Regions from separate parts of the Homo sapiens genome. Here region 1 is linked to region 2. Evidence: fine-mapped expression QTL. Tissue or cell type: sun-exposed skin. Region 2 holds a variant in brackets; the other region holds the start of a gene. All regions are shown on one strand. Distances are between the middles of the regions.

Region 1 (2,903 bases), 42 kb before region 2:
AAGTCCTGTTCCCACCGTGGTTGCTTCTGCAGGCTGTCCCCTTCTGCTTCCTCTTCTGACGTCCTGGAGGTCATAGTTGCTCCAGGGGAGCTACAGTCCTTCCTTACTTCTGTCCCCTCCTTTGTGAAGGGACAGCTCTAATGGCAGCCACATGCTCTGATGAGTCATGGTTAAGAGCAGCATCTGGGGCCAGGAGATGGTGACTGGTTAACTCTTCATGGGCCAGTGGCTTTCTGTGCCAGAAGATCAGGTCAGGTGGAGACACCGCCTCAGGGCTCGGTGCACAGTGGACATTTGGGGAGCGTTGTGGGTGACCCCCACACAGGCACTGGGAATGCAGGGGAGAGGGGGCCAAGGGGGAAAGGGGCCAGAGTGTTGGCTTTGGATTCAGGAGGGATGGATTCCAGTCCTAGCTTGCCACTTATTAGGTGAGTGACCATGCGTGAATCAAATGAACCCCATGCCTCAGTTTCCCCATCTGTAAAATAGCAATTATGGGGATCATTTGAGAAGGCAGTGTGAACTGCCAGCTAGCAGTGAGTGCTAAACCGTGTTTTCCCCGCCTTCTGGTCTCCTGCAGTCACTCAGTGGGCGAGATGGTGGGATTAAAATCCAGGCCTGACTCTGGGGGCTGTCTTTGTCTGCACGAATGCCCCCATTAATGCGGGAGGATGGTGACGGCTCAGGTGGGGGCCGCTTCGGGGCGGAAGCTGTGGGGAGGAGAAGTGACAGTAAAGTGGACCTCAGGTCCCGGAGAAGAACTTCTAGCGCCAAATAGGTGGGGACGTGTGAGGAGGGAGCGAGCTCCCGGCCCGGGCGGTGTCTGCGCAGAGGGCGCCGGGCTCTCACCTGTCGGAGCGGGGGTGGGGGCCGCCCAGAACCCCCGGCGGTGCGGGAGCGCGGGTCGCCGCGGGCGGCCATGGCCCTACGGTGCGGGTGGGGAGACCGAGGCTCGGCCCGGCCCCGCCGCCTTCCCCGCCCCCGGCGCGCCCCTCCCCGGCCGCCGCGTCCGCGACCGCACAGCGCCCGGCTCGGGGTTGCGGCGGCAGCACCTGGGCCGCGATTGGCGTCCGGCTGGGGCAGCGCCGCCCGCGCCCCTCGGCGATGACCTCGGCTGGCGGCGCCCCAGGAGCCCTGCCCGCGGGGTAAGTGCGCGGCTGGGAGGCCCGGGGGCGCGGGCGGCGCGGGCTGGGGCCCGGGCAGGTGGCGGGCGCCGCGCCAGGCCTCCCCCCGCGCACCGGCCTGGGGCCGCACTGCGGCTTCCAGCCCCCACCCCGCCCGGCCCCTGGCAGCCGCCGCCGCTGCCAGGAGTGGGGGCAGGGGGCTGTGAGGAGGCGGAGGCGCGGGGACCCCGGGTCGGTCACTCACCTTCTGGGTCCCAACTTTCTCACGGAGCTGTAGTCACAGACACGTTCAGAGCAGCCTTCCCCACCTGCCTCGTGGCGTTCACTCCTGTGGGGTGGGCCCTGTTACTCTCATCCCCATTACAGATGAGGAAACTGAGACACAGCACTTAAGTGACTTGTCATCGGTCACCCAGGAGGTAAGAGTTGCGGGTGGGATTTGAACTCAGTTCTGTCTGTTGTCAGATCCCCCCACCCCATCATCTTCAGGGACATTAGGGGAACTTAAACAGCTAAGGTATGGGCCAGCCGGGCCCATTGGGTGCAGCAGGAACCTGGGTAGTAAAAAGTGGGTGTTGTCACCTTCAACGTGGCTCTCCTGCCCAACCCTACCCACATCCCACTGAGAAACCCCTATAGGACCCCTACCTAGATCACCCCCCGTAGCAGTGACAGCCGCTACTGCCGGGAGACCTTCAGCAACTCTCTGCTTTTCCTGGGCCCCAGTGGGCAGGGCAGGGGGCAGCTGCTAGGAGCCCTGACTGCTGGGAGGTTGCTGGGCAGAGAGCCGGCCCAGGTGAGCTGGGAGGAGGGCTCACCCTGCCTGGAGCCTCACCACCAGTGACAATATTTGCTAAGGGCCCGAGGCTTGACACATGAACAGGGAGGTGACGAGGCTGGTGCCAGCTGGCAGCTGGAAGTCTCCACAGGGCTTGCGTGTGTGTGGCTCTATCAGGGCTTGGAAGCTGGGTTGCTGGGGGACACCCTGGCCTGGGAGAGGGTTGCCTGGTGAGTTTCAGCTTCATCATTTTTGTTGTGTGACTTTGGCCAAGTCCTTAACCCTTCCTAGACTTCTGGTCCCTCCTTTGGAAAACACAGAAGTGGGGCTGGCTGTTCCTTTCCTGTTCTGGGCTCAAGTATTTGTAAAGCTGGAGGTTGGGTAGGTTCCTTCTGTGCAGCCCTGACTGAGCACCACCACCCTGCTGGGTCCAGAAAAGTGGTTTCCAGGAGAGAAGGCGGGCATGGAGCAAGGTATCTATCAAAGAAGTCTAGACTCCCTGGCTGAAAACCACATTCATCCCACTTCCTTATATGCTTACATCCCTGCCTAAGTGCCCTCTACAACCCCGGGCACCTCTGGCCCTGCTGCAGGCCTCAGGACAGCAAGCTTGCTCTTCTCACGCTGGTGGGTCTTCCTTATGCAGAACCGTACCTGCCTCTCTGCATGCCTGCCCACTCTTCTTTGAAGCCACCTGTCCATCTGTCCCCAACCCTGGCTAGTGTCATCCTGGTGGGGTCTGAGCAGAGGAGGGCCGCACGCAGCAGGACCATTCTCACCTTCACTACAGAGACACTCACTCAACAGACACTCAGCAAGGCCTGCTCTGGGCCCAGATGGTCATTGGTGAACAAATCAAGCCTTAAATCTCTACCTTTTTAAAAATTATGAAATATTTTAAGCCTTCAGAAAAATATAGCAAATAGTAAAATGAACTCACAAACCCTTGCCACCCAACTTTGTCAGATATTAACATTGTGCCCCATTTATTTTATATTCTT
Region 2 (2,903 bases):
CGGGAGCTGTACAGATAATTCAGACCTAGCCTCCCAGTGCCACCAAATTGCCTGACTACAGGAGTCCATCCACGTTGTTTTGAGTGAACAGTGTCCCCTGGAGTTTGTAATTCGGTGACTCTATCCTTGCCCTCAGGGAGGGCAATGTGACAGATGGCAAGCTGTAGGCAACCCAACCAAGGCTCGTCAGGGCCATGCTAAAGGAAAGCGGAGAGGACAGCAGGTGCCCCAAGAAGGGACCTAAACTTAATGGGAGATACCAGGAAAGGCTTTCCAAGGCTGATGTTGAAAGTGGGAAGTTCATCAGGCAGAGAAAGCAAGGGAGGACAGGTTTGAAGTGGAGTAAGTACAGCATGCACCAGTGCATGGACACAGGAAAGACATCTGAGGCTGGGGTGACGGTGATGGGGTCTTTACCTGCCTGGGTGAAGTCATAGAGAGAAAAGATTGAAGATGAAAAAGGAGGGATAGAATGAGAAGGGCCTGGATGTTTTGTTCACAAGGCTAAATTGTATCCCAAAGAAGACAGCCAGAAAGGGTACCGGGCAAGGAGGACTTGGGGTTTAAAAGGATATCTCCAGGACAGCATGGAGGTCGGGTCAGAGAGGGTAGATCAGAGACAGGAGACTTTACAGTTTAATAAACCATTCAACCTGGAGAAAGGGAGGTCGGGACTTAGGTGGCGGTGGACTAAGGACATGACAGGAGCCATAGGTTGTCAGGGAGCTGGAGCCCAAGGTACAGGATGGGAAGGCTTTGCTATGGATCCCAGCCTTTCTAGGGCTGGGTAGTGGGAACCTCCCAAAATTGGAGTTCGGGTTAGGAAATCCTCACATGCAGTTTGGGAGAGGCTCAGGAGGAGGAACCTGAGCCATGTCCTCTGTTCTGCAGTGAAAAGAAGATTAAATATGACCACTACTTGATCCCAAACGCCCTGCTGGAGCTGGCCCTGCTGCTTATGGAGCAAGACAGAAACGAAGAGGCCATCAAACTTTTGGAATCTGCCAAGTAAGGCTTGGGTAACCTCAGTCTGTCCTTTGCTCCCTCTGAACTCAGCTCAGGAGCTGGCTGGGGACAGAGTTGCCCAGAGAGCAGTGAGTGGAGTTGCTAGCAAGGCCAGTCTGGCAGTCTAGAGGGTGGACCTGTGTCCCTCGGAATCCAGCTCTCGCCTGTCATAGGAAGACTTCTTTCTTAATGTATAAATGCGCAGTTAGACTCCCAGAGGCAGGAAGTAAGTTCCCAAGGTCACATCAGAAGCCAACTGCATGGCTGTGTGAGGACCCATGCCTCCTGCCTTCCAGGGTAGGGGTCTATTCCCTAAAACCACCCCTTCAAGCTTAGGAACCCAGGAGGACCAGGAGTGGTTCCAGTGGCCATGATACCAGGGATGAGGGGCCACAAACCCTTCTGGTTAACTCTCCCATTGGGTAGGGCTCAACTCTCTCTGGACACATTAATTTCTCTACAATCCTTCCTTGGCTCGCGGGGCTCATACAGCTCAAACAGGAGGAAAAGCATCTCTGGGAGCAGGCAGCCTCATGTGTCTGATTCGCTGCTCAATTCCAGGCAAAACTACAAGAATTACTCCATGGAGTCAAGGACACACTTTCGAATCCAGGCAGCCACACTCCAAGCCAAGTCTTCCCTAGAGAACAGCAGCAGATCCATGGTCTCATCAGTGTCCTTGTAGCTTTGTGCAGCAGTTC[C/T]GGGCTGGAAGACAGAGACAGCTGGACAGAGCTCCTGAAAACATTTCAAAATACCCCCTCCCCCTGCCCTGCCCTGCCTTTGGGGTCCACCGGCACTCCAGTTGGATGGCACAACATAGTGTATCCGTGCAGAAGCCGAGCTGGCATTTTCACCAGTGTAGCCAAGGGCCTTTGCCAAGGGCAGAGCAGGTGGAGCCCTCTGCCTGCCCTATCACACATACGGGTACTTGCTTTTCACTGTGATGTTTAAGAGAATGTATGAACAGTTTACATTTTCCTTAGAAATACATTGATGGGATCACAGTTGGCTTTAAAAACCAACAACAATCAACCACCTGTAAGTCTTTGTCTTCACCTATTATCATCTGGAGGTAAATCTCTTTATATGATGATGCCAAAGGGCAAATTGCTTTTCAAATTCAGCAAGTTCTCAGCTTGTGTGACGGAAGGTCCTTCAGAGGACCTGAGGAATGCCTGGGAGAGGCTAAGCCTCAGGCTTCAATGCTTCTGGGGTTGGGCATGAGGATGTACACAGACACCCACTACCTTACTACTCACACTTCATTTCACTCCTTTTGTAAATTTCCAATTTAAAAATCAAGCACGTCTTTTTAGTGAGATAAAATCTGAGCTCTTCTGTAGAAAAATCAATCTCTACCAGTAGAAAATGCCAGGGCTTGATGGAAGAGCTGTGTAGCCCTTTCTATGCCAAAGCCAGGAAATTTGGGGGGCAGGAGGAGGTTCTCAGAATCCAGTCTGTATCTTTGCTGTATGCCAAACTGAAACCACTGGGAATAATTTATGAAACATAAAAATCTTCTGTACTTCACTCCAAGGTACATTTGCTTACTGACAGCATTTTTGTTAAAACTGTTATTCTTGACCTGTTGTGTATGCGTTAGATTCTTCAGTTAAGAGAAAAGAGATATTTAAGTGATAAAATTTATGCCCTTAAGGGATCGTGCATCATGTATTTCAATAAAATATGTGTTGCATGAATCCTTAGGCCAGGCAGAAAGTCTTGATCAGAAGCCACACGGCCTATGTATGTTTTATTTAGACCACACAATGTTTTAAACTTTTTGAATAAGTTACCAGCATTCACAAATGGGGAGATTTTACAGATGAATCTGGTTCCTGGCCTGTAATTTAAAAACAAACAAACAAAAATGGCAACATTGAGCCTCATTCCCATGA

Which allele goes with the higher level. Positions count from the first base shown, and alleles are read on the strand shown. Sizes are in standard deviations (SD) of each study's normalised expression.
For the expression in sun-exposed skin of the gene that starts at base 1,020 in region 1, allele C in region 2 goes with a higher level than allele T (small effect, 0.19 SD a copy in GTEx).

Evidence for each region. PIP is the estimated chance that this variant, and not a neighbour inherited with it, causes the effect.
Region 1: it holds the start of TTC39A, and the variant in region 2 is fine-mapped to the expression of TTC39A in sun-exposed skin (GTEx, PIP 0.98).

Annotation. Positions count from the first base shown.
Region 1 is chr1:51,328,679-51,331,581 of GRCh38, reverse strand. TTC39A (tetratricopeptide repeat domain 39A) reads left to right here and starts at 1,020. Exons shown (of 18, transcript NM_001297663.2): 1 at 1,020-1,145. The coding sequence starts at 1,105. It overlaps TTC39A-AS1 (TTC39A antisense RNA 1), which reads right to left and starts at 1,928. Exons shown (of 3, transcript NR_123731.1): 1 at 1,773-1,928; 2 at 1,369-1,452; 3 at 301-710. RefSeq lists an enhancer at 111-160 and a silencer at 978-1,047.
Region 2 is chr1:51,286,944-51,289,846 of GRCh38, reverse strand. It overlaps TTC39A (tetratricopeptide repeat domain 39A), which reads left to right. Exons shown (of 18, transcript NM_001297663.2): 17 at 892-1,008; 18 at 1,567-2,589. The coding sequence ends at 1,690. Among named protein-coding and RNA genes, the nearest start is that of TTC39A-AS1, 41 kb to the left of the region's middle. The variant C/T (reference allele first, on the strand shown) is at 1,707.